Linked DNA regions of Homo sapiens: regions 1 and 2 are each linked to region 3. Evidence: fine-mapped expression QTL. A gene starts in region 3. Each other region holds a variant in brackets. All regions are shown on one strand. Distances are between the middles of the regions. Region 1 overlaps MAP3K15 (mitogen-activated protein kinase kinase kinase 15). Region 2 overlaps SH3KBP1 (SH3 domain containing kinase binding protein 1). Region 3 holds the start of MAP3K15 (mitogen-activated protein kinase kinase kinase 15).

Region 1 (10,720 bases), 120 kb after region 3:
TCTCCTGCCTCAGCATCCTGAGTAGCTGGGACCACAGGCACGTGCCACCACGCCTGGCTAATTTTTTGTATTTTTAGTAGAAACGGGATTTCACCATGTTGGCCAGGCTGGTCTCGAATTCCTGACCTCAGGTGGTCTACTCGCCTCGGCCTCCCAAAGTGCTGGGATTACAGGCATGAGCCACCACGCCTGGCCTAATTTTTGTATTTTTAGTAGAGATGGGGTTTCGCTATGTTGGCCATGCTGGTCTCAGGTGGTCCTCCTGCCTGGGCCTCCCAAAGTGCTAGGATTACAAGCATGAGCCACAGTGTCCAGCCAACCCTTTAGTAATCTTAATTGTCATGAACATCCCTAGAAGTAGATGGGAAAGGACACCCACATACCCGCCGACTATTCCGTGTATAAGCTGCACTTCTGTAAGTAGAAGCAGTGGAGCATGCAAAATAACAGAAAAAATTGATTGCTGCCTCTCTGCTTTAAATAAGTGTTGCTCAGCGTACAGTCACATTTGTTTTAATCATCGAGAAGAATCAAATGCATCTGTATGTGACAGCTTTTGATGGGAAGATGGGGGAACAAAATAGTAATGCTAATTGTAAATCAAGTTTTTGTACTAGGTGTTTACTACTAGATCCGTATGCCTGAAAGAGTGGGGAAGCCCCAGCATATTTACTTTTTGTATTAAGATAATGTTAATTATATTGACCTTCAATTCCTTTCTGGGTTATTGAAAGATATTTGTTTCCTGACAACTTGATAAGGGATTATGCAGGAAGACACCTAGTTGGGTTATTCAACATGCTTAGAAGCAGTTTTAAATTGCAGCGTTAAAATGGGGAAGAATTTCCAAAAGGTGAGCCAATTATATGCAAACCATATTTTTAATTTTCTTGGATTCCATTTCATAAAGTCATACTATGAACAGGTGAACAATGGAGAATTCTGCCCCTTTAAAGTCATTTAATGAAAAGGGCCTAAGCTAAGCACTGTGACTTGCCTGACAGTCAAATAATGTTATTTATATTTTTTTTAGTTGCTAGACAACTCTGGGGGCCTTAGAGGGCTTCTCCGCTACAAGTTGTATGCTTTTTTGTCCTTTTGTTTTTCCTTCTTCAGTATGAGTATGACCATGATGCAAATGGTGAGAGAGTTGTCTTGGGGAAAGGCACGTATGGGATTGTGTATGCTGGCCGAGATCTGAGCAATCAAGTGCGAATAGCCATCAAAGAAATCCCGGAGAGAGATAGCAGGCAAGTCCAGGCGGGCCTTCCGCATTTCGGGTGCCGTCTCCACACCCCAGATCCCATACCCACCGCTCATGGTGTGGAGGAGTTAAGGGCAAAAGCATTGTGTTACCACAAAACCTGTCATTCTCTTGTAATAGGGGTGATCTTTTTTTTTTTTTTTTTTTTGAAACGGAGTCTCGCTCTATTGCCCAGGCTGGAGTGCAGTGGCATGATCTTGGCTCACTGCAACCTCTGCCTCCCAGGTTCAAGCAATTCTCATGGCTCAACCTGTAGCTGGGATTACACCATGCCCAGCTGATTTTTTTGTATTTTTAGTAGAGACGGGGTTTCACCATGTTGGTCAGGTTGGTCTCGAACTCCTGACCTCAAGTGATCTGCCCGCCTTGGCCTCCCAAAGTGCTGGGATTACAGGCATGAGCCACCGCGCCCGGCCAGGGTGATGTGCTTTTGTTTTGTGTATTATAGATTGAGAAAATGGAAGAACTACACTTCAGAGGCACGTGGATTGCAGAGGATCATATTTTAAAAGAAAACTTTTGTTGTGTTTCCACCCATTGGCTAGGTCTAAAGTTTTACATTTTTTGCGTAGTTGTTTGCAAATATATATACATTTTTGAGATGAAGTCTCACTCTGTCACTCAGGCAGGAGTGCAGTGGCAGATCTCGGCTCACTGCAGTCTCCACCTCCTGGGCTCAAGTGATCTTCCCACTTCAGCCGCCTGAGGAGCTGGGACTACAGACACACGTCACCATGCCTGTCTAATTTTTGAGTGCAAATATAATTTTTAAATATTACTGGGTTATTTTAAATTTACATTGTAGCAGTTGAAAATGGCTATGATTTGTTCAGATGCATCATTGTGGAAAATTACATGCAGATAAAAAAAATCAGATTTTTGCAGTACAGAATTTTTTTTAACATCCTACCCTTCACCCTCACACATGGATTTTGGACTGTTTTTCTACCATGAGTACTGCTTATTCATTTCTTTGACTTTTTTTAATTTTAAGAAATGTTTGTTTCTAGCCGGGCATTGTAGCTCAAGCCTGTAATCCCAGCACTTTGGGAGGCTGAGGCGGGCAGCTCACTTGAGGTCAAGAGTTCAAGACCAGCCTGGGGAACATGGTGAAACCTCGTCTCTGTTAAAAATACAAAACTTAGGTGGGTGGGCATGGTGGCGCACACCTGTAGTCCCAGCTACTCTGGAGGCTGAGGCACGAGAATCGCTTGAACCCCGGAGGCAGAGGCTACAGTGAGCCGAGACTGTGCCACTGCACTCCAGCCTGGGTGACAGAGTGAGACCCTGTCTCAAAAAAAAAAAAAAAAGTTTAAATTTATACCCCAACAAAATGAGCATTGCAATGTTGACTGCAAAGTGTTTCTGTAGAGAAGCTACATACACAGTTGGAATTAATCATTCCGGGATCCACAGGTGTGTCAGACCACAGCTGTAGGATTGCCTTCAGTGTCGAGTGCTGAAGAATAATGTGTAAACACCCATGTATCTGGGTGATTGCTGATATATTGGGGATGAGTTTTAAGGGATTTCTGCCAGCTGTAAGACCCTTCATTCATCCATTCATGTATTTGTTGATTTTCAGTGGGATAGCATGTTATGATACGTGAATTATGAGACAGGACCTGAAATGAACTATTTCCATTTCTTCATTTCACCAATAAGAAAATCAAGACTGAGGAAGATTAAATGACTTTCCCAAGGATGCTTAGAAACAAGACTAGGATCCGAGTCTCTTGAGTTCCTCATCCAGCATCCAGTCTCTTTTCTCATGATGGATAAGGTGTTGCAGTTGTATCTATTTGGGGAAATTTCTGGCATGTCCCATCTCCTTCATTTGGTAGCAATAGCTGTTCTAGCTTTTTGTTGCTGATCAGTAGTTCCTGGGATTTTAAGAGCTAGAAGGGACCTTTAGAGACTGTTTTGTTCAACTCCCTAAATTTATAGGCTGAACTTATGATGATAGGTACTTTCTCTGTGTCAGACTCTGGGCTGGCACTGGGGACCGAAAGGTGATTAGGATAGTGTCCTTTTCCCAGGGTTCTGCTGGTTCGGTGGCAAATGCAGATGCTTTGCCTCTGAGTGAAAGTGCCAAGTGCCATGATAGAGGAGTACACAGAGTGTTTTTAGAACGCAGAAGAGGAATGAATTACTCTCCTTAGTGAGTTGTGGCAAGTTTGAAAAAATAGATCAACTTTGAGCTGCACTTTGAGGGATGAGTAAGAATTTGTTTAGCGGAAAAGGAGGCCTATGCTGATGGAAAAACAGAGCTGTTAAAACACAAAGTATATTCAGAGAACAACAGATTGTCTGATATGACTTGAATGTAGGATGCAGGGCAGTGAGATGCTCTTGAAATGAGGCCAAAAAAAAATTTTTTAAGGCTTAGCCTGAACTGATCTTTGAAAGTCCTTGTATGTGACATTAAATAGCATGGTCTCTATGTGGAATTTATGTGGGGAAGGGATGTGGTGAAGTGTGTGTTTTAAGAAGAGGTAGTATAATGGCCAAGGTTGGGGAATGGATTAAAAAGGCCAGAGGCTGGGGCTGGGTGGCCCATTAGGTGGCTGCTGTTGTGGTCTGGGGCGACTCTGTAGAATAAGACGAGAGGGCAGCTGAGGGCAGAACCTTCCAGAACACCACTCTTCATGGGAGGCAGAGGAAGAGGGGCTGTTGAGAGAGGTAAAGAATGGTTGGTGGGTTCAGGCCCGAAAAATAACAGTAGTAACAATAGCAGTCATTCATTGAATACTCACCACACACCAGCTACTCCACTAAGTGCTTAATGAAATGGACATGCCTTGGCCCCTGGCAGCCCTGCATGGCTGTAGGCTTATCCTCTATTGTACAGATGGGAAGTTGAATAGTTTCATGGAAGCCAGAGAAAAGAAAGTTTCCAGAAAGAAGGGATGGGCAGCAGTGGGGCAGGTCCTGGTGAGGTGAGATGTGGTTCTAGAGTCCCTGGGATTTGGCAGGTGACCCTGGCTCTGTTTTTCCCAATAGGTATTCTCAGCCTCTGCACGAGGAGATAGCCCTGCACAAGTACCTTAAGCACCGCAATATCGTTCAGTACCTGGGCTCTGTTTCAGAGAACGGCTACATTAAGATATTTATGGAGCAGGTGCCTGGAGGTGAGTAGTCGCTGTCTTCTGGTCTCACATTCTGAAAATCACTACGACGTGGATGTCATTTGTTGTCCTGCCATTTACAAAATGACAGACCCCTAAGCCAGGCCTGTAGGGCGCCTGTAGTCCCAGTTACTTGGGAGGCCGAGATGGGAAGATCACTTGAGCCCATGAGGTCAAGGCTGCAGTGAGCCATGATCACAGCACTGCACTCCAGCCTGGGCGACAGAGCAAAACCCATCACTCTTTTTAAAAAAAAAAAAAAAAAAAAAAAAAAAAAAAAAAAAAAAAAAAAAAGCAACAGACCCTTTAGATGTTGGAAAGTTGGATACTTTCCAAATGTCATATAAGCAGTCTATTTCTGGTTTGTTGATGCAGTTTGTTCAACCCACAAATATTCATTGACTGTCTATGGAGAAAACATAGTCTTTGGCCTTGAGGCCTTCACAGTCTAGGAGTTTAAAGGTGGGTTTGGACAAGGGTGCAGAAGAGGGAACATAGATGTTAAAAGTGACAGTGCAAAATAGCATTTTGATAATGAAATCAAGCATCAGTGTTTTATCCACAAAAATCCCTGAATGCAAGAGATAGGGCACAGGAGGGGAGTTCCTGGGATCTGGACCCAGACCATCTAGTCTGAGTCCGTTCCTCCATCCACAAGCTGTGTGACTTCAGGCAAATTGTTATACCTCTCTGTGCCCTCAGTTTTCTGATTGAATAAATGAACTGTAAAATTGGAGTAATAATGACTCTGATAATTGGAGTAATAATTATTGGAGTAACAATTAACGCTGTCTCAGTGGGCTGTTGGGTGGATTCTGTCTGGCAGAGAACAAGAGCTCAGTAAGTGCTCATTGAAATAATGAATCAAACTCTTTAATTAAATAATAGTTATCTGAATACAGATGTTAAAACTTCAGTTAGAAATCTTCATTCATTCATTCAACTGACAGTTATTAAGAGTCT[G/A]CTATTACAGGAAGAGTCTTAAGTATATTTATTAAGAGCCAGGCAGTCAGCCAGGCACAGTGGTCACGCCTGTAATCCCAGCACTTTGGGAGGCCAAGGCAGGTGGATCACTTGAGGCCAGGAATTCGAGACCAGCCTGGCCAACATGGAGAAACCCCCTCTCTACTAAAAATACAAAAAATTAGCCAGGTGTGGTGGCGTGCGCCTGTAGTCCCAGCTACTCCGGAGGCTGAGGCACAAGAATCGCTTAAAACCAGGAGGAGGAGGTTGCAGTGAGCCAAGATCATACCACTCCACTCCATTCTAGGTTACACAGTGAGACTCCGTCTTCAAAAAAAAAAAAAAAAAAAAAAAAAAAAAGAGCCAGGCAGTGGGCTAGATTTTCAGGGTTATGTTAGAATAAATAAAGTAGTTTGTCTTTCCCTTAAGTTGGTCATAGTCTATCAGAAAACTCGTCCATTGCTGCTTTTTCTTTTTTTTTTTGAGATGGAGTCTCTCTGTCTGTTGCCCAGGCTGGAGTGCAGTGGTACGATATTGGCTCACTGATGGCAACCTCTGCCTCCTGGGTTCAAGCAATTCTCTCTGCCTCAGCCTCTCAAGTAGCTAGGATTACAAGTGCGTGCCACCACGCCTGGCTAATTTTTGTATTTTTAGTAGAGATGGGGTTTTGCCACGTTGACCAGGCTGGTCTTGAACTCCTGACCTCAGGTGATCTGCCCGCCTCGGCCTCCCAAAGTGCTGGGATTACAGGCGTGAGCCACCGTGCCCGGCCCCTTACTCTTCACGTTAGTTGATAACCCCATCCCCGGCGTTAGGTTTAAGGGTATCAACAGAAATAGAGACAGATGTGTTCATCCCCTTTTATAGATGGGGAAACCAAGGTAGATCAAGGTCCCATAACACTGTGTAAGTGGGAATCTGAGACCAGCCGATGTCTGAGGGCCCGTTCCTGCCAATGGACAGGACATCCCGCAGTTCACATGATGTCCTTCGAGACGTGGTCACAGTGTCCTTAAGGGAGCTTTTCTTTTGGCCCAAATGTTCAGTGTTTAATAGCGTAATTGGGGGAAGTGGTTGTTGATCAAGACAGTCCTGCCCTGAGACTTGCCACTGTGGCTTTCTCACATTGAGGACAGAGAGACCCAACTTCCTCCAGTCCTAGTCCTTGTCACCCTAAAGGGCCCCTCACTGTGGACCTGTCCACCTCTGATTACAGACAAGGTATAAAACGTGGCTTTAACCCAAGCAGAATGACTGAGACAGACCTGCTGTAAACAAGTGTCATGGGACCTGAGTTATCTACGCCAGCAGGCCATGCCCCTCAAGTTGAGAGAGCATTATTTCGCTCTCCTCCTAACTTCATGTAGCTGAACAGAGCTAAACCCACAATTGGCCCCACTGAATTTCAGGGGGCACAAGGGGTTCATGTTCACCCTGTGCCTCTGGTTAGGTTCATGTGCTCAATTGCTTCCAGTCCATTCCCTGGCTGTAGCTACAGAGGGGAGGAAACATGTTGCATTTAGCCCAGATCCGATGGTGTTGGTGTAAGCACTTAGGTTAGGTTAGAAACCTCACCTCACTTTATTTCCCTGAACTTTTATTGAAACTTTCTCTTCCTGATAAGTTTTTTGCTGTGACTGTCTCTAGGAAGCCTTTCTGCTCTTCTGCGATCCAAATGGGGGCCGATGAAGGAACCGACAATCAAGTTTTACACCAAACAGATCCTGGAGGGCCTTAAGTATCTTCATGAAAACCAGATCGTGCACAGAGACATAAAGGTACTTGCTTTTTTAAGCTGACGAGGTTGCCTTTGCTCGTATCAGATCATGAGAGCTGTCGATGGTGTCTGCTGAGTGACTGGCTGACAGAGGGGTATGATTTAGCACAACCGTCCCCAAAATGCAAAGTCTAGTTTTCCTAGAGACTTGTGACGGTTTCCCAAGGTCCAGATCTGTTTCATATGAGTTCGTTTCAGCCTGTCTTTTAAGCACTTGATGATGTTATTTTCCGAAGGGCGATAATGTTCTGGTGAACACCTACAGCGGAGTGGTGAAAATCTCCGATTTTGGAACCTCGAAACGTCTTGCGGGTGTGAACCCCTGCACAGAGACTTTTACTGGTAAGTGGACCAAAGCTTGGCACAGGGTGCCCATCCCAGAGTTACGCTTTCTGCACAAGCTGCGGTTGTTCAGCCGTTACTTAGTGAGCACCTTTTCTGAGCAGAGTGAGCAATTGATACTTGAAGTAGACAGTGGATTGTCCCCAACTTCAAATTGTTTTAACTTTGTCATAGTGATGCACCTAGCCAGCTACTTGTGGCAACAAGATTGCCCTACTTTCTTCTTTGTCATCCAAAAGTTGGGTAGATGGAGTGCTCTGCTGAGGTTCTGAGGTTTTCTTTTCTTTTTTTTCTTTTTTTCTTTCTTTTTTTTTTTTTTTTTTTTTTGAGACGGGGTCTCACTCTGTCGCCTAGGCTGGAGTGCAGTGGCACGATCTCGGCTCACTGCTACCTCCACCTCCTGGGTTCAAATGATTCTCGTCTCTCAGCCTCCCAAGTAGCTTGGATTATAGGCGCGCCCCCTACCACACCTAATTTTCTATTTTCAGTAGAGACGAGGTTTCACCATGTTGACCAGGCTGGTCTCGAACTCCTGACCTCAAGTGATTCGCCCACCTCAGCCTCCCAAAGTGCTGGGATAGATTACAGATGTGAGCCACCGCGCCTGGCCTCTGCTGAGGCTTTCTGAAGGTCACTCAACCAATCAGCAAGATGGCAGCACATCTCTTTAAAGTTAATAGCACATTATCTGAAATCGTGGGTAATGCTGAATAACAGTATTCCTCAGACAACTGATTAAGACATTTTATTGGTCTGTCATAAAAATAGCCTGTTACTGTAGTGAATTCTGGTACCTTGTGTTTTGATATGATTGTGTTTCCAAGAGAGGCTAATTCTTCCTGGGGAATATGGTATTCTAAGTGATTTTGAGGAATTGGATTTTCTTGTCCATGTGTCAGTAATGGAATAACTTGAGCATTGAGAGGGACTGGGTTCAAAGGGTGGTATACAATTACCAGCTAGTTTCACAGTTGTAAGATCAATAAGTAGAATGATGGTCAAAAGCTACTTGTGGCTATTGGAAATTCCTGCTTAAACCTGACTAATAACAAGAACTTTGATCCTTGGAAAGAAGTACTGATTTTTGAATAAGTAAAGGTTTATAGTCCCCCAAGGAGTAACGTAAAGATCACAAAGATCTTGCTTGATGGAATTATGAAACAGCTGGGGCCTGGTATAGTGGCTGACACCTGTAATCCCAGCACTTTAAAAGGCCAAGATGGGAGGATCACTTGAGGCCAGCAGTGCAAGACCAGCGTGGTCAACATAGTGAGACCCCATTTCTTAAAAGAAAAAAAAAAAAACAGCTTTCATAGGCTGGGCACTTTGGGAGATTGAGGCAGGAGGATCTCACTTGAGCTCAGGAGTTCAAGACCAGCCTGCGCAACATAGGGAGAACCCCATCTCTACAAAAAATAAATAATTATTATTATTACATATTATATTTATATATTATATGTTATATATAATATAATACATAATGATTATATATAATATATGTATATAACATATATTATATAGTAATTATTAGCTGGGTGTGGTGGTGTGCGCCTATGGTCCCAGCTACTAGTGAGGCTGAGGTGGGAGGATCGCTTGAGCCCAGGAGGTTGAGGCTGCAGTGAGCTGTGATTGTGCCACTGCACTCCAGCCTGGGTGGCAGAGTGAGACTCTGTCTCAAAAAAAAAAAAAAAAAAAAAAGAAAAAATTAGCTCTTAAAATAATATAGCTCTGAAATAAGCTATAAAAGACAGGTGACTGTTCTCTATCTCTGCAGTCACCAAAGCTGTAGGGTGGACAGCTTGGGTCTTATTTTTGGTAAATAATGTGTCAGCTTTGAAAGACTTTTTGTCAATGAGAGAGTTGTCGCGTGTCAGCCACTGGACACCCACAGTGGAGACACATTCACCATCTAAAGAGAATTTTAATACATCACAAAATGACTTCTCACTTGTAACACAAGGGGAGGTACATGTGCCTGAAAATGGGAAAATACTATACCAGGGACACTATCAGAATCTCCCAAAGAAAGAGTGCATTGAATTTTCATTCATTGTTTCTGGTATAAATATACGTATACATCTGTCAATGTGTGTATATGAATATGTGTGTATGACTAGCACTTCATTTTCTTTTAGCATTTTACTACCCTAATTGAAAATGACTTGTATCCTCCTCTTTGGAAGCCACCAATTAGCTTGGCAATACATAGCAAGAGGGGCTCTGATATGACAAGGAGTTATTTGAAGACATAAAACCCCCAACAATTTATCTCATAATTAGCTTCCCTGAGGAGGAAACAAACTCACAAAGAAACACATGTATAATTCATCCTTGCATATCACACTTCCCAAGTAATTGGCTTGGGGAGGCACGGATTTTGCATTGCAAAAGAATGCAGGGGTGTTTGGGGGATAATAAGGAAGGGGTCTCATTTTGGTTAGGAAATTCCCCCGCATATAATTGCTCTTTGCAAAACAGAGCAGTTCTGTAAGGAAATCTCAGCTGGTTGGTGCAGAACTCTGGGTCTGTGGTTGCTCAGCCTGGCAGGAGAGCCAGAGGGTTTCAGTCAACTTCCTGGCCTGGAGCCCTCCCTCCCTGTGTTCCTCTGAAGGGTTTGCCCCACACATAGGAACCTGCGAGAACAGGAGGAAGGGCTGTTATAGCCAGGGTCAGCCCTGCCTTTTTTTTTTTTTTTTTTTTAGCAGCCTTATCGAGGTATAGCTGACATATCATCAAAGCACCCATTAGAAGTACTCAATTCTTTGGTTTTCAGTAAATTTACTGAGTTGCTCAGCCATCACCACGATCCAGTGTCTGGACCTAGCAGACCCCGTGCCCCTTGGTACTCATCCCCATTCCCACTCCAGCCCCAGCTCATCACTCATCTGCTTTGTTGTGTTTGTGTGGCTTTGCCCGTTGTGGATATTCATATGCTTGGAATGAATACAATATGTGGGGTTTTGCATGTAGCTTCTTGCACGTTGAGTCCTGTTTTTGCAGTTCCTCCATGCAGTGGTGTGTATGGGTACTTCGTTGTTGTTCATGGCTGAATGGCATTCCATTGTGTGGAGAACCACATTTTGTTCATCCGTTTACCAGTTAACAGTCATTTGGGATTGTTTCTACTTTTTGGCCACTGCGAATAATGATGCTGTGAACATTCACATACAAAGCGTGTGTGAACATGTGTTTTCAGCCTTCTTGGGTAGATACCTAGAGGGAGAACTCGGGACAGGAAGTCTGTTC
Region 2 (5,000 bases), 54 kb before region 3:
AATATCATAGTTTATTCAAGTGTTTTCCTATTTATGAAAGATTCTAGTTCTTTTCAGTTTTTCTTCATTACAAATAACACTGTGAAAAACACACTGATGCATAAAATCCATTTGGGAGGTGGAGGTTGCAGTGAGCCGAGATCACGCCACTGCACTCCAGCCTGGGCGACAGAATGAGACCATGTCTTAAAAAAACAAAAACATTTTACTCTTTTATATATAGACAGAGAGAGAGAGAGAGTACATATATGTGACATATATATGTACTATATATAACATATATGTACTATATATAGTATATATGTACTATATATAACATGTACTATATAACATATATGTACTATATAACATGTATGTACTATATATAACATATGTATGTACTATATATAACATATATGTACTATATATACATATATATGTACTATATATAACATATATATGTACTATATAACATATGTACTATATATAACATATATGACTATATATAACATATACTCTATATAACATATATGTACTCTATATAACATATATATGTACTATATATAACATATGTACTATATATAACATATATATGTACTTTATATATATAAAAGAATAGTTGAGAATGACAATAAAAGGAAAATAAGAGCAGTAAAGTAATAAAGCATAGTAATGCACAATAGGGTCCTCTAAAGTTTCTGGAGACGGGCTCACATTTGATTGGAAGCTTCCAGCTGTCAAATCGCAGAGGGAAACAGCAGCTCCCAGATTGACAGTTACCATAATACACAAATAAGCCACATGTTCAGAAACTGCTGAGCTGTTCTGAGATACATGTGATTAACTCATGAGCAAAACTTCATCTTTCTGCCAGCAGCCCCTCTGACTTAACCCCAGCTGCCCACAGGGTATCACCTCAAACCATCTTTCCCTCTTGACTGGAAAAAAAAAAAAAAGCCAAGTAGAGTTCACTAAACTCACTGCCTGAGTGCTCTCTTTCTCCTGGGCAGGACATGTGGTCTTATAAGTTTTGATCTTTGGTGTGTTTCAAAAAGGACAGAGCTGTCTGGTTGTGAGTATAATTTGTGTTTAGTCTGTTATTTTGAAGGATGGCAGCACCCAATCCTTCTGGGATCTGTGGATCCCAGGTAATGATGTTTAAGGGTCCCCAGGAATGTATTTCTTTATATCTGGGGAAAACTCTTAAAAATGAAAATGCATTTCTGCTAATAATTCTGCATTTCTGAAACATTTCATTCAGGTTACCTTCAAATTAGTGGGTGCTGGGGCCCTGACAGTGAAATGTTTTGAAATAAATGTCCTCCATCCTGCCCTTTCTGTTGGCTCGGGATCAGTCTGAGGCAATGGCCCTGGTGGGGCCCAAGCTTGGGTAGCCAGGGGACGGAGAGGGAGTCTGCTGTGGAAACCTAGCCTAGGGGAGCCCACAGCCTTAGGAAGTTAGGGTGAGGCAGGAAATAAAGGTCCTTCTCTGAAGCCTAAGCTGCTTCTCCTTTCCAAGTACAGGAGTTCATGCTCTACCTGAACTTCTATTTCAGCCTAGCTTGGAAGGGCCCAGCCAGCATCATAGCACACACTCCCAGGACAGTCTTGGAGCTGTATTTTCTCTTAGTGGAGGCCAAGCCATTAGGCCTAGGCCTGGTCCCTGGTATTCTTACCCCTGCCCCTCCTGCGGTGGAGGATGCTTGAGGTTAAGAGGCAGTGTTTTTTGCTTGGGAGTTGAGGAGGACTCACCTCCTTCCATTGGTCCTTTTCTCCCATCACAAAAATATGCATGTTGTGCCAAATGCGCCCACAAACACTCCCTTTTTTGAAACAGGATCTCACTCTGTCACACAGGCTGGAGTGCAGTGGCACGATCACGGCTCACTGAAGCCTCAACTTCCCTGGGCTCAGGTGATCTTCCTGCCTCAGCCTCCCAAGTAGCTGGGACCACAGGCGTGCACCACCACACCTGGCTAATTTTAGTATTTTTTGTAGAGATGGGTTTTCACCACATTGCCCAGGCTGGTCCCAAACTCCTGGGCCCAAGTAATGCTCCCATCTCTGCCTCCCAAAGTGTTGGGATTATAGATGTGAGCCACCGTGCCCTGCTCACCACCCATTCTTTGAGTGAAAAACGCAGCAGTCTGTCCTGTCAGCTCCCTGGTTTGGAGTTTACCCACAGCACCTGCCCTGACCTGACCTCCAGGTATACAGGTCTCCTGCTACAACCGTCCCTCGGCCCCTCATTGCCTCCCAGACAAAACAAGCCCTGTAGTATCCGGCCCAGCAGTCAGGTGTTCACCAACCTTGCCAGCCTTTGTCCTGTCACTTCTCTCTGAGGACTTCAGGCTTTGGTCCCGGGGGACTTGGCCACACTGGCACTCTCACCTACACTGGAGTCATTGCTCAGTCACACCTCTTAGGAATATGTCCTCTCTCCCTTTTCCTCCAAGGCTCAAGTGTAACACCACCTCCTTGCCCACTACCCTCTGCCTCACAGATCTCCTGCACTGACCCACTCCTTTCTTCTAATAGGACTGTGACACCTGCGTCTTATAGCCTAGGCC[A/G]TGTGTACCTGTGGCTGGCTGGCTGTCTCTCCCATTTAGACCACAAGCCATTCCAGAGTAGGCACACCTCTGAATACCCACAGCACAAGTGGCACATGACAAGTGCTTGTTGACTAAATCTGGTACTACTCATTGTGAGGTGTAACTTCAGGCCATGGTGGCCTTCGGGGCGGTGAGATGGACTATTTCTGTTACTTTGCTGGGAACAACTGCTCAGCTTCTCTCTCTCATTTTATGGGCAAGGATCTTTTCCTATTTCACCGCTCTCATAGCCCTTGGATAAACTCGTTTGTGACTCATCCCCCCAAAAGGGTGCAAAGAGCTGTCTTGTGGAGTAATTTGGAGGAACCTTCTGTTTGTGCATGAGAAGGCTAGGTTTCTCTCGTCATCTTGGAGGCCTGTTCCCATCCCATAGAGCTGCTCCTAGCCCAGATACAGAGGGAAGTCATTCGTGTCCTGATGAGCATGGGGCACCCATCCAGGAGCCGTCTAATGTTACAGGCCTGAGCCCCAGCACCAGCATTCAGGCCGCCAGATCTCAACTCGACACCTTGTGCCTTTCAACAGCCTGGCTGATGCCACAACCCCAGGCCAGAAAACCTTTTTCTCAAGGTTGAAAGTAGCTGACCTTTGACAAGCAGCATTGGCTAAATTCCTTGTTCCTTAAAAGGAAAGCTCCCAGTTATCATTAGCCAGTGTTTATTTGGCCGCAGGGCAGGAGCAGGCCCTATACTGCACCCTGTGTACCCAGCAGGAGGGTTTGTGGCTGGAAGTACATGGGCGAACAGTCATTATTAAAATAGCCATTTTTGAAAACGTGTGCTGGAGAGGGACGCATCCAGCCTGTCAGCTGGTCTGCACCCCATCTCATGTGGCTAGACAGCTCGTTGGTTCTCTGGCTCCCTCACAGGCAACAGTGCCATCCACTCCACACCAGCACACTCCTTAACGTGTGCAGCAAGAAAACTGACAGAATGACAAGGACACACACCAATTATTAAATGTCTGGGCTTGTGTTTTTAATGTAGGGGTGACAGTCCAAAGATTGACTTGGCCGGCAGTTCGCTATCTGGCATCCTGGACAAAGATCTCTCGGACCGCAGCAATGACATTGGTGAGTAAGGACAGTGTTCTCGCTTCTCTTTGCAGAGTTAGTAAAGAACCTCAGAGCCTGGCTTGCCTTCAACCAGCATGATGAGAAGTAATAAAGCCATTGAAATGCCAGGCTGGCACCCTTGCTTGGCTTTAGGTGTTACAGTTTTGTAAAGAAGGGAAATGATGGTGCTTTCCACATTAAAACACAATGCCTGGGACCTTTCCCCTCCCTAGGAGAAATTCCTTACAAGATCTAATGAAAAGAAATGATGAATAAGCCTTTTTGTAAAAAGTGGGCATTAGCCCTTATGTTCACAGTTTCCAGTGATTTGTGTATTTTGTGTAAAAAGGTGGATGGATGCAAATGTGAGATGGCAGGGTTCATTGTTGATACAGCACTTTTGACTGAGTTTCAAATGAGCTTTGGTATGGTAATTGCCACTTAGTTCAGAACATGAGTGAGTTTTCCCAAGGTCAGGATACCACCATGTGATAAATGGGAGGGAGCTACAGTCTCTCTGGGTAAATAAAAGTCAGAGGTCCTTTTGGAGGTGTACGTGAGTGGGTGTGAGGCCACCGGTGTGCTGTTAAGGCCACTAGTGGTCTGACCTGGGTGACAACCCTTTTAAGAAGTCCAGATTCAGGGACTAATTTTTTCTTATTATTTTATTTTATTTTTTGACATAAAGGCCATTTAATGATAGAAATATATAAAAATAATCATATTGTTTAGCAACAGGCTATCACATTTCTTGGGAAGAGGAAAATGACCTGCTTTAAGAAAAACTTGCAACCATGTGCAAGTCTTCATTTCAACATATTTTTCCCCATCCACTTAAGCATTTATCCTTTGAGTTATAAACAGTCCAATTACACTATTTTAAAATATACAATTAAATTATTATTGACTATAGAGATGCTATTGTGCTATCAAATAGTAGGTCTTATTCATTCTTTCTAACTATATTTTTTGTACCTATTAACCATCCCCACCGCCTCCCCACCCCAGCCCTGTACTACCCTTCCCAGCCTCTGGTAATCATCCTTCTGCTCTCTACCGCCATGAGTTCAATTGCTTTGATTTTTAGATCCCACAAATAAGTGAGAACATGCAATGTTTCTCTTTCTGCACCTGGTTTATTTCACTTAACATAATGATCTTCAGTTCCATCCATGTTGTTGCAAATGATAGGATCTCGTTTTTATGGCCAAATAGTATAAATTTTTTTTAGCTTTACATCTTCTGTTTGTACCTATCAAGGTCATAAGTTAGCATTCTCTCGTATTCTACATAATATAGAAGGCTGAATTTTAAAATTTACTTTGTTTTAATTGAACTTTTTATTTTGAAGTCAT
Region 3 (10,720 bases):
CCATGTTGGCCAGGCTGGTCTTGAACTCCTGACCTAGTGATTCGCCCACCTCGGCCTCCCAAAGTGCTGGGCTTACAGGCATGAGCCAATGCCCCCGGCCCTTTTTTTCATTTCTATAATTTTGTCACTTCAAAAATGTTATGTGGCTGGGCGCCTGTAATCCCAGCACTTTGGGAGGTCAAGGCGGGCGGATCACTTGAGATCAGGAGTTTGAGACCAGCCTGGCCAACATGGTGAAACTCCATCTCTACTAAAAATACAAAAATTAGCCAGATGTGGTAGCAGGCACCTGTAATCCTAGCTACTCGGGAGGCTGAGGCAGGAGAATTGCTAGAACCCGGGAGGTGGAGCTTGCAGTGAGCCGAGATCGCGCCAGTACACTCCAGCCTGGGCGACAGAGCAAGACTCCGTCGCAGGGGGCAAGTGGGGAAGAAGAGATGAGTGCTTGCCAGCAGTTAGGGATGGGGGTTGAGAAGGGTGATGGGTGTGGCTATCAAAGGGTGACAGAACCAATCCTTGTGTGTACACACACACACACACACACACACACACACACACACATATATATATATATATATTTTTTTTTTTGAGACACAGTCTCACTCCATCACCCAGACTGGAGTGCAGTGGCATGATCTCAGCTCACTGCAACCTCTGTCTTCCGGGTTCAAGCAATTCTCATGCCTCAGCCCCTTGAGTAGCTGGGACTACAGGCACGTGCCACCACGCCTGGCTAATTTTTATACTTTTAGTAGAGATGGGGTTTCACCATGTTGGCCGGGCTGGTCTTGAACTCCTGACCTCAGGTGATGCGCCCATCTCAGCCTCCCAAAGTGCTAGGATTACAGGTGTGAGCCACTGTGCCCGGCCCTCTTTTGTATTTTGATTGTATCAAGGTCAATGTCTCGGTTATGGTAGTATACAACAAGATGTTAACATTGGGACAAACTGGATCAAGGGTACACTAGATGTCTCTGTTTTATTTCTTATAATTGCATGTGAATCTACAATTATCTCAAAAGAAAACATTTTAATTAAAAAAGTTTTTTACATACACAAAACAACAATAGAGACAAATATGGAATCCTCTAGGAGAGGGTCATCAGGGTGGAGAGTAGTCTGGAAATGATGCCATGGAGAAATGATCGAAGGGCCTGGGAGGTGGGGTATCACCTGCAAAAGAGAAGACTTAAGGAGAATTCTTGGACAGTTGCCATGTGGAAGAATAATTAAATTGGAACCAGTGGGTGTGGCCAGGCACAGTACCTCACAACTGTAATCCCGGCACTATGGGAGGCGGAGGTGGGAGGATTGCTTGAGCCCGAGAGTTTGAGACCAGCCTGGCCAACATGGCAAGAACCCATCTCTACAGAAACAATTAGCCAGGTATGGTGGCATACACCTGTGACCCCAGGTACTTGGGAGGCTGAGGCGGGAGGATTGCTTGAGCCCAGACCAGAAGGTCAAGGCTGCAGTAAGCCATGATCACACCACTGCACTCCAGCCTGGGCAACAGAGCAAGGCCCTGTCTGAAAAAAAAAAAAAAAATAGTGGGTAGCACTCACAAAGGGATTTCCTCTAAATATATGGAAGAGGTCAGGCATGGTGGCTCATGTCTGTAATCCCAACACTTTGAGAGGCCAAGGCAGGAGGATTGCTTGAGCCCAGGATTTGGAGACCAGTCTGTGCAACATAGTGAGACATCATCTCTACAAAAAAAATAAAAAAATGTGGTAGGAGGATTGTTTGAGCACAGGAGGTTGAGGCTGCAATGAGCTGTGATCGCGCCACTGCACTCCTGCCTGGGTGACAAAGCAAGACCCTGCCTCAAAAAAAAAAAAAAAAAAAAAAAATTAAATATATGGAAGAACTTTCCATGATACCTCTACATTAGGACAAAGTTGTTTCCAGGGCATGTACTTAATAAGGGGCAAGGCAAAGGTAAGAACAAGACAGTTGTTCAATTAAACAGAAGAAACGAATCCAGCATTTTGCAATTTTCTTCTCAGTGGGGCTGGGGGGAGGTAGGAAGGACATTGGGGGAAGGGGCCAGGGCATGCTTCAGGTGTGCAAATTGCTACACACAATGAGAAGGTGGGCTGTGTGTCCCAACTTCAGGGAAGGTGCTCGTTAGCTGGGTAAATGCTGCGCTCTCAGCATTTACTCAGCAGGGTTTGTATTTAGAGGAAGCTCTTATTCAAGCCAGAATTCACAGCTCCCGTGGGTCTCACTCCATCAGCAGGGCCCCAGTGAGAGCTGAGAGGAATTCGGGAAGATTGTGATGGGGACAACAGCAAGATGCTGGCAAGGGATTTTAAGTGGGCATCTTTGCCCTTCTGAAGGCTGTGGCAGTCCCTGGAATAATTCCAGATGAACAGGCATATTAGGAAAATTACTATTATTATGCATTACAACGTTACAAAGAATACATGTGTCCTTTTATAGCATCATACAAAAAATGTCTTAGAACAAGGTGTGGAGAGTTTTTCTGAGCTTTCCTGCTTCCCAGCCTGGTCTGTGTGTTCTCACAGATTTCCTCAGAACCCATTTTCCATTCGTTGACCACAGACGAGGATGCACATGGAAGCTGCTTGTGATTTCCGCCAGGGCTGGAACGAGGGCAGGATTTCTTCATGGATTTATACAGATAGTTTCTGCTTTCTTTGGGGGTGGGAGGTGGACTGTATTAGTACTGAAGCATGCAAAGAAGCTGAAATGTTTTATAAGTCCTATCCTGCACGTGTCAAAATGGCTTGTGATGTGCTGCCAAGGACACCCTCAAGAAAGTAAAAAGACAGCTCACAGAATGGAAGAAGATATTTGCAAATCACATATCTGATAAGGAACTTCTATCCACAATATGTAGAGGATTCTTACAACTCAATAATAAAAAGACAAATACTCAATTAAAAAATGGGCAAAGGATTTGAATAGACATCACTCAGAAGTTGTTATACAAATGGCCAATAATTAACACATGACAAGATGCCCAGTGTCATTATCCATCAGGGAAATAGAAATCAAAACCATCATGAAGTACAATTTCACACCTGCTAGGATGGTCATAATCCAAAAACAATAACAAGTGTTGGTGAAGATGCAGGGAAATTGGAACACTGCTGGTTGGTGAGAATGGAAAACGGTGCAGCCACTTTGGAAAACCGTGGAAATTTCTCCAAAGGTTAAACACAGAGGTAAGCCTGGTGTGGTGGCTCACACTTGTAATCCCAGTGCTTTGGGAGGCCGAGGTAGGAGCCAGGAGTTCGAGACCAGCTTGAACAAGATAGTGAGACCCCATCTCTATAAAAACGTTTTCTAAAAAAAACTGTAGAGTTAGCATGTGACCCAGAAATCCTGCTCCGGTATATGCTCAAAAACCTATGTCCACACATTGCATGATTCCATTTGTATGAAATGTCCAGAATAGGCAAATCTACAGAGATGGTAGACTTATGGTTACCTAGAGCTGGGGATGTTGGGAAGGAGGGAGAGTGGTTTCTAATGGGTACTGATTGATTTTTGCACTGGGGCGTGGGGTGATGAAAATGTTGTATAACTCATTATGGCCATAGCTGCACAACGCTGTGGATATACTAAAAACTTTCATTGAATCGTACCCTCTAAATGGGTGAATTGTATGGTATGTGAATGATAGCTCAATAAAGCTGTTATTAAAAAAGAGAAAACCTTTGGGTATAAGCCCAGTAACGGGATTGCTGGGTGGAATGTTATTTCCATTATAAGGTCTTTGAGGAATTGCCACACTGTCTTCCACAATGGTTGAACTAATTTCCACTCCCACTAACAGTGTATAAATGTTTCTTTTCCTCCACAGCCTCGCCACCATCTGTTATTTTTTGACTTTTTAATAATAGCCATTCTGACTGGTGTGAGATGGTATCTAGTTGTGGTTTTGATTTGCATTTCTCTAATGATCAGTGATGTTGAGGCTTTTCTTTCATATGATTGTTGGCCACATGTATGTCTTCTTTTGAAGAGTGTCTGTTCATGTCCTTTGCCCACTTTTTAATGGGGCTGTTTGTTGTTTTCTTGTAAATTTAAGTTATTTATAGATGCTGGATATTAGACCTTTGTCAGATGCATAGTTTGCAAAAATTTTCTCCCATTCTGTAGGTTGTTTGTTCACTCTGTTGACACATACATGTGTATGTTCATTGCAGCACTATTCACAATAGCCAAGACATGAAATCAATCTAAATGCTCATCAATGGTAGATTGAATAAAGAAAATGTGGTACATACACACCATGGAATACTATGCAGCCATAAAAAAGAATGAGATCATGTCCTTTGCAGGAACATGGATGGAGCTGGAGGCCATTATTCTTAGCAAACAAATGCAGAAACAGAAAACCAAATGCCCCATGTTCTTACTCATAAGTGGGAGCTAAATGATGAGAACACATGGACACATGGAGGGGAACAACACACACTGTGGCCTATCAGAGGGTGAAGGGTGGGAGGAAGGAGAGGATCAGGAAAAATAACTAATGGGTACTAGCCTTAATGCCTGGGTGATGAAATAATCTATACAACACACCCCAATGACACAAGTTTACCTGTGTAACAAACCTGCACATATACCCCTGAACTTAAATGAAAAACAACAGATTGTATTCCATAAATATATACAATTATTTGTCAATTAAAAATAAAGTTTAAAAATAATATTGCAATTGAAAAAAGAAAAACCTCCAAGTCTGTGACAGCGTCCGGTGCATTCTATCTTTTAGAAAACAATGACCCAGGTGCGGTGGCTCACGCCTGTAATCCTAGCACTTGGAGAGGCTGAGGCGGGCGGGTCGCTTGAACTCGGGAATTCGACAGCAGCCTGGCCAACATAGTGAAACCCCGTCTCTACTAAAAATACAAAAAAAAAAAAAAAAAAAAAAAAATTAGCCGGACATGGTGAGGTGCGTGCCTGTAATCCCAGCTACTCTGAAGGCTGAGGTGGGAGGATCGCTTGAGCCCCGAGAAGCAGAGGTTGTAGTGAGCCTAGAGCAGAGATCGCGCCACTGCACTCCAGCCTGGGCGATAGCGACAGACTTTGTCTCAAAAAAGATAAAAAATAAGAATAATGGTATTACCCTCAGTGGTAACACTATTTTCTTTTAATATTTGTGTCCAAATTCGTGAAGTGCCTAAGATCCGAGTGAGGGCCCCTTTGAGTTCACGGCATTTTCAAAGGTCAGGCAGGCAGCGTACTTGGAGTCTATCTTCCAGACAAAATTTGTTGCTGGTGCCTCCCTGTGCCTTGTCAAGGTCACGGCGAAAGCCAGGACGAGCTCGCCTCCGGCACAGGGCTCACGGGGGGCCGTGCGCTTGGCAACCAGGGATGAAGCATCCGTTCATCCCAATGCCGGGTGAAAACTATTAATACGTCTGTATTGAGTTGGGAATAGAACATTTCCATCCAACCGATGCTTTGAAAGAGTTTTTACCCTGCTCGAATGCTTCAAGTTGTTTTGAGAAAAAAGAAATTGGAGCTCCTAATGGTGGTCAGGCTAGAGGGATGGCCAAAACAAAAAACAAAAAACAAAACAAAAAAAAAAACAACCCCAATTCCTGTTCCCGTGTTCGGCGTCTCCCGGCTGCGGGCGGGCGCTGCCTGGAGGGGGCAGCAGGGGGCACCCTCCCCGCTCCTGCCCCGCCGCCCTCCCCGGCCCCCTCCCCGCCCCTCGCTCGCCCTGACGTCCCCAGCCCCCGCCTCTTTCTCTCCGGCCTTCAAAGGGCGCTGGGGGCCTTGGGGCCTGAGCGTCAGGCTGCAGCCTAGGGGTACTGCCGTCTTCGGCCCGCCGCGGGGTCCCCGGTGCGCTCCGTTCCCTCGATTCCCGTAGCGTCCCGCGCTTCAGGAGCAGGTGCCGGGACCGCCTGCGCGGCTGCTGTAACTTGTGCCTCCTAGCGGATCGCAGCCGCTGGCCACTCGCCCAGGGGAAGGGCGCGCAGGCGGGCACATGGAGAGCGGCGGTGGGAATGCTCCGGCCGGGGCCCTCGGGGCGGCGAGCGAGTCCCCTCAGTGCCCGCCGCCGCCGGGGGTGGAGGGCGCGGCCGGGCCGGCGGAGCCCGACGGGGCGGCGGAGGGCGCGGCAGGCGGCAGCGGCGAGGGCGAGAGTGGGGGCGGGCCGCGGCGGGCTCTGCGGGCAGTATACGTGCGCAGTGAGAGCTCCCAGGGCGGCGCGGCCGGCGGCCCGGAGGCTGGGGCGCGGCAGTGCCTGCTGCGGGCCTGCGAGGCCGAGGGCGCTCACCTCACCTCCGTGCCCTTCGGGGAGCTGGACTTCGGGGAGACGGCCGTGCTCGACGCCTTCTACGACGCAGGTGAGAGCGGCTTCGTCCCCACCTCAGTCCCAGTTCACCTACCCTCACACGAGCCAGGGCACCCGCCCCGCCCCCTCGCCCTTCTCCCCCGTCCCCCTCCCCCTCGTCCCCCTCCCCTCCCCCTCGTCCCCCTCCCCTCCCCCTCGTCCCCCTCCCCTCCCCCTAGTCCCCCTCCCCTCCCCCAGTCCCCCTCGTCTCTAGTCCCCCTCCCCTTATCCCCCTCCCCTTATCCCCCTCCCCCAGTCCCCCCTCCCGCAGGCCCCCCTCCCCTTAGTCCCCTCTCCCCTTAGTCTCCCTCCCCTTAGTCCACCTCCCCTTCCCCTAGTCCCCTTCCTCTCATCCCCCTCCCCTTAGCCCCCCTCCTATCCTCTCACCCCCTGATCCGTCCAACAGGACCGTCCTGCCTTTGGGGGAGGGTAGAGTCTTTAACATTGTGCCCTTTTACAGATAAGAAAATAGAGGCCACGGGCATTTAGACTCTTTGATTCTTCAGGCATCTTAAACATCAGATAACCCAAGAAACAGCCTGTAACCCAGACCCTACCAAGCCCCCCTTCTCCCAAGTTATCCAACTTTTGCTTTCTCATTCCTGGAAGGTCTCTTACGGCCGTGGGTCCCAACGCAGGCTACATATTAGAATCACCTGGGGAGCTTTTAAAACTCTGGGTGCCCAGATCGGACCCCAGACCAATGACATAAGCACCCGAGGCCTTAGAAGTGTCATGCTTCCCAGGCGATTCCATTTTGCAGCCAGGAGTGGAAATCGGTGTCTTACGTGTGTGTGTGTTGCCTCTACTTAGAAATACCCAGTGTTCTTTTGCACACTTCAATTCTCGTCCCCAAAACACTGACGGTGGAGTGTGAGCCACCACCCTGTGACGTATATTTTATCCCATAATGCACAGCATTCACGGGTTAGGGGGCACCTTTGCTGGAGTGGGACTCTAGGTCTCTAAACTCACTATAATAAATGTGCCTGAGAATCCAGCCTTAAGAAGCGTACTTTGGATTGGCAAGAGTTTCTCTCGGTGTGGAATGAATTGTTGCTTGACGTTTTTTCCCTTACAGCACCTTTGGTGACAAACCTCTGTCACCTGGGTGACGTTCAGAAGCATTATATGTGAGACAGTAATTACCTGGGAGTCCTTGTGCCTCAGTTTCTGGTCAAAGGGAGTTAACAGTGCCTACCCTAAACCTAAAAGCTGATGAGATAGGATATGGGAAGTTGCTTTGCTGTAATAGTAAGCTAGGATGATTAGGATTCAGCCTCTGCTGGAGGCAGCGCAGATCTGTTTTTCTTGCAGAGCAAATTCTCCCCAGCTGGAAGGGCGGGGTAGGGGGGGAGTCAGGCTTGTTTAAACAAGTGGCAGCTGGACCCATTGAAAGCACTCTCCTGACATTTCTGACCACACTGAGTATACTCTTCAGCACAACATCTTTTTAGAAAAGTCGTTCAGGAGTCCACTTCACCTAGAACCACTCCGTTTTCTCAACTTGTATTCATTCTGCTCCAAAATTGGAGTTTGAACAGACTCTTCTCTGAACGGTTAAATGTTCCTTTTGCCATGAGGCACAACACTCTCCTTCCTGCTGGTGCCACCTCTGAAAGATTTGTGTGCGGTGGCTTTTGCTTTCCCTGGGGCGGAGTGTGTGTGTACGGGGGGCCCTTCTAACAGGTCGACTGTGAAGATGCAGACGTCAAATCTCAGGCTTTCAATTCTGGAGCCACACAACAGACACGTCACCTTGGCTCACTCTGGCCTGGGTGGCCTAGAATGTTGGGCTGTACCACGAGCTCCCTTTGGTTAACCTTGTCCTGGTCTTGAGTAAATCATTTCTCAGTGCATTAGAATTGCTTTCAGAGGTTTGAGAAAGTACATACACAGTAAGTGGGTTCCTGGGCTAAACAGATGAGCACCTCCACTGTCTCCTGGATTCGTCCTCCATCACTCACTGCTTTTTGATGTTTCCACCAAAAAAGATACAGAGCTCTCACTTTGGCTTCTTTGTAAAAATTCTAAAACCACTCTGTCCAATTTGGTAGCCACTAGCCACAGGTGGCTCTTGACAGTTAAACTGATTAGAATACGGTAAAAATGGTAAGATCCTTAGTTGCACTAGTGGCATTTAAGGCGCTTGATAGGCCAGGTGCAGTGGCTCACGCCTGTAATCCCAGCCCTTTGGAAGGCCAAGGCGGGAGGATTGCTTGAGTACAGGAGTTCAAGACCAACCTGAGCAAAAAAAAAAAAAAAAAAAAAGCAGGATGTGGTGGCACCCATGTGCCTGTGGTCCCAGCTACCTGGGAGGTGGAGGCAGGAGGATCACTTAAGCCCGGGAGGTCGATGCTGCGGTGACCTGTGTTTATGCCACTGCACTCCAGCCTGGGTGACAGATCGAGACCCTGTCTCTAAATAAACGAATAAATGCATGCTCCGTAGGCACAAGTAACTCCCAGGTGGGACAGTGAAGTTACAGAACTCTTTCCTCATCTCAGAAGGTCCTATTGAACAATGCTGTTCTGGAAAAAGGCTTGTGGGGGAGGGGAACTGTTGAACGGCCCAAGTATTTATTTTTAACTTTAAGTTCTGGGATACATGTGCTGAACGTGCAGGTTTGTTACATAGGTATACATGTGCCATGGTGGTTTGCTGCACCAATCAACCTGTCATCTAGGTTTTAAGCATGCATTAGGTATTTGTCCTAATGCTCTCCCTCCCCTCCCACTCCCCACAGGCCCTGGGGTGTGTGTGTGATGTTCCCCTCCCTGTGTCCATGGGTTCTCATTGTTCAACTCCCACTTATGAGTGAGAACATGTAGTGTTTGGTTTTCTGTTCCTGTGTTAGTTTGCTGAGGATGATGGTTTCCAGCTTCATCCATGTCCCTGCAAAGGACATGAACTCATCCTTTTTCATGGCTGCATAGTATTCCATTGTGTATATGTGCAACATTTTCTTTATCCAGTCTATCATTGATGGGCATTTGGGTTGGTTCCAAGTCTTTGCTATTGTAAATAGTGCTGCAGTAAACATACATTTGCCTGTGTCTTTAGAGTAGAATGATTTATAATCCTTTGGGTATATACCCAGCAATGGGATTGCTGGGTCAAATGGTATTTCTGGTTCTAGATCCTTGAGGAATTGCCACACTGTCTTTCACAATGGTTGAACTAATTCACACTCCCACCAACAGTGTAAAAGCATTCCTATTTCTCCACATCCTCTCCAGCATCTGTTGTTTCCTGACTTTTTAATGATCGCCATTCTAACTGGCGTGAGATGGTATCTCATTGTGATTTTGATTTGCATTTCTCTAATGACTAGTATTGATGGGTTTTTTTTTCATATGTTTGTTTGCCACATAAATGTCTTCTTTTGAAAAGTGTCTGTTCATATCCTTTGCTCACTTTTTGATGGGGTTGTTTTTTTCTTGTACATTTGTTTAAGTTCCTTGTAGATTCTGGATATTAGACCTTTGTCAGATTGATAGATTCCAAAAACGTTCTCCCATTCTGTAGGTTGCCTGTTCACTCTGATGATAGTTTCTTCTGCTGTGCAGAAGCTCTTTAGTTTAATTAGATTTCCTTTGTCTATTTTGGCTTTTGTTGCCGTTGCTTTTGGTGTTTAAGCCATGAAGTCCTTGCCCATGCCTATGTCCTGAATGGTATTGCCTAGGTTTTCTTCTAGGGTTTTTATGGTTTTAGGTCTTACGTTTAAGTCTTTAATCCATCTTGAGTTAATTTTTGTATAAGGTGTAAGAAAGGGGTCCAGTTTCAGTTTTCTGCATATGGCTAGCCAGTTTTCCCAGCACCATTTATTAAATAGGGAATCCTTTCCCCATTGCTTGTTTTTGTCAGGTTTGTCAAAGATCAGATGGTTGTAGATGTGTGGCGTTATTTCTGAGGCCTCTGTTCTGTTCCACTGGTCTATATTCCTTGGTATTTTATTCTCTTAGTGGCAATTGTGAATGGGAGTTCACTCATGATTTGGCTCTGTGTTTGTCTTTTATTGGTGCATAGGAATGCTTGTGATTTTTGCACATTGATTTTGTATCCTGAGACTTTGCTGAAGTTGTTTATCAGCTTAAGGAGTTTTTGGGCTGAGACCGTGGGGTTTTCTAAATATACAATCATGTTGTCTACAAACAGACGATTTGACTTCCTCTCTTCCTAATTGAATACCCTTTATTTCCTTCTCCTGCCTGATTGCCCTGGCCAGAACTTCCAACACTATGTTGAATAGGAGTGGTGAGAGAGGGCATCCCTGGCTTGTGCCAGTTTTCAAAGGGAATGCTTCCAGCTTTTGCCCATTCAGTATGATATTGGCTATGGGTTTATTTTAAATAGCTCTTATTATTTTGAGATATGTTCCATCAATACCTAGTTTGT

The links.
Region 1: its variant is fine-mapped to the expression of MAP3K15 in whole blood (TOPMed, PIP above 0.99).
Region 2: its variant is fine-mapped to the expression of MAP3K15 in whole blood (TOPMed, PIP 0.98).

Annotation. Positions count from the first base shown.
Region 1 is chrX:19,388,756-19,399,475 of GRCh38, reverse strand. MAP3K15 (mitogen-activated protein kinase kinase kinase 15) reads left to right here. Exons shown (of 29, transcript NM_001001671.4): 15 at 1,117-1,250; 16 at 4,268-4,395; 17 at 7,003-7,133; 18 at 7,369-7,474. Among named protein-coding and RNA genes, the nearest start is that of PDHA1, 50 kb to the right of the region's middle. The variant G/A (reference allele first, on the strand shown) is at 5,356.
Region 2 is chrX:19,567,766-19,572,765 of GRCh38, reverse strand. SH3KBP1 (SH3 domain containing kinase binding protein 1) reads left to right here. Exons shown (of 18, transcript NM_031892.3): 13 at 3,578-3,663. Among named protein-coding and RNA genes, the nearest start is that of MAP3K15, 55 kb to the right of the region's middle. The variant A/G (reference allele first, on the strand shown) is at 2,550.
Region 3 is chrX:19,510,516-19,521,235 of GRCh38, reverse strand. MAP3K15 (mitogen-activated protein kinase kinase kinase 15) reads left to right here and starts at 5,728. Exons shown (of 29, transcript NM_001001671.4): 1 at 5,728-6,335. The coding sequence starts at 5,975.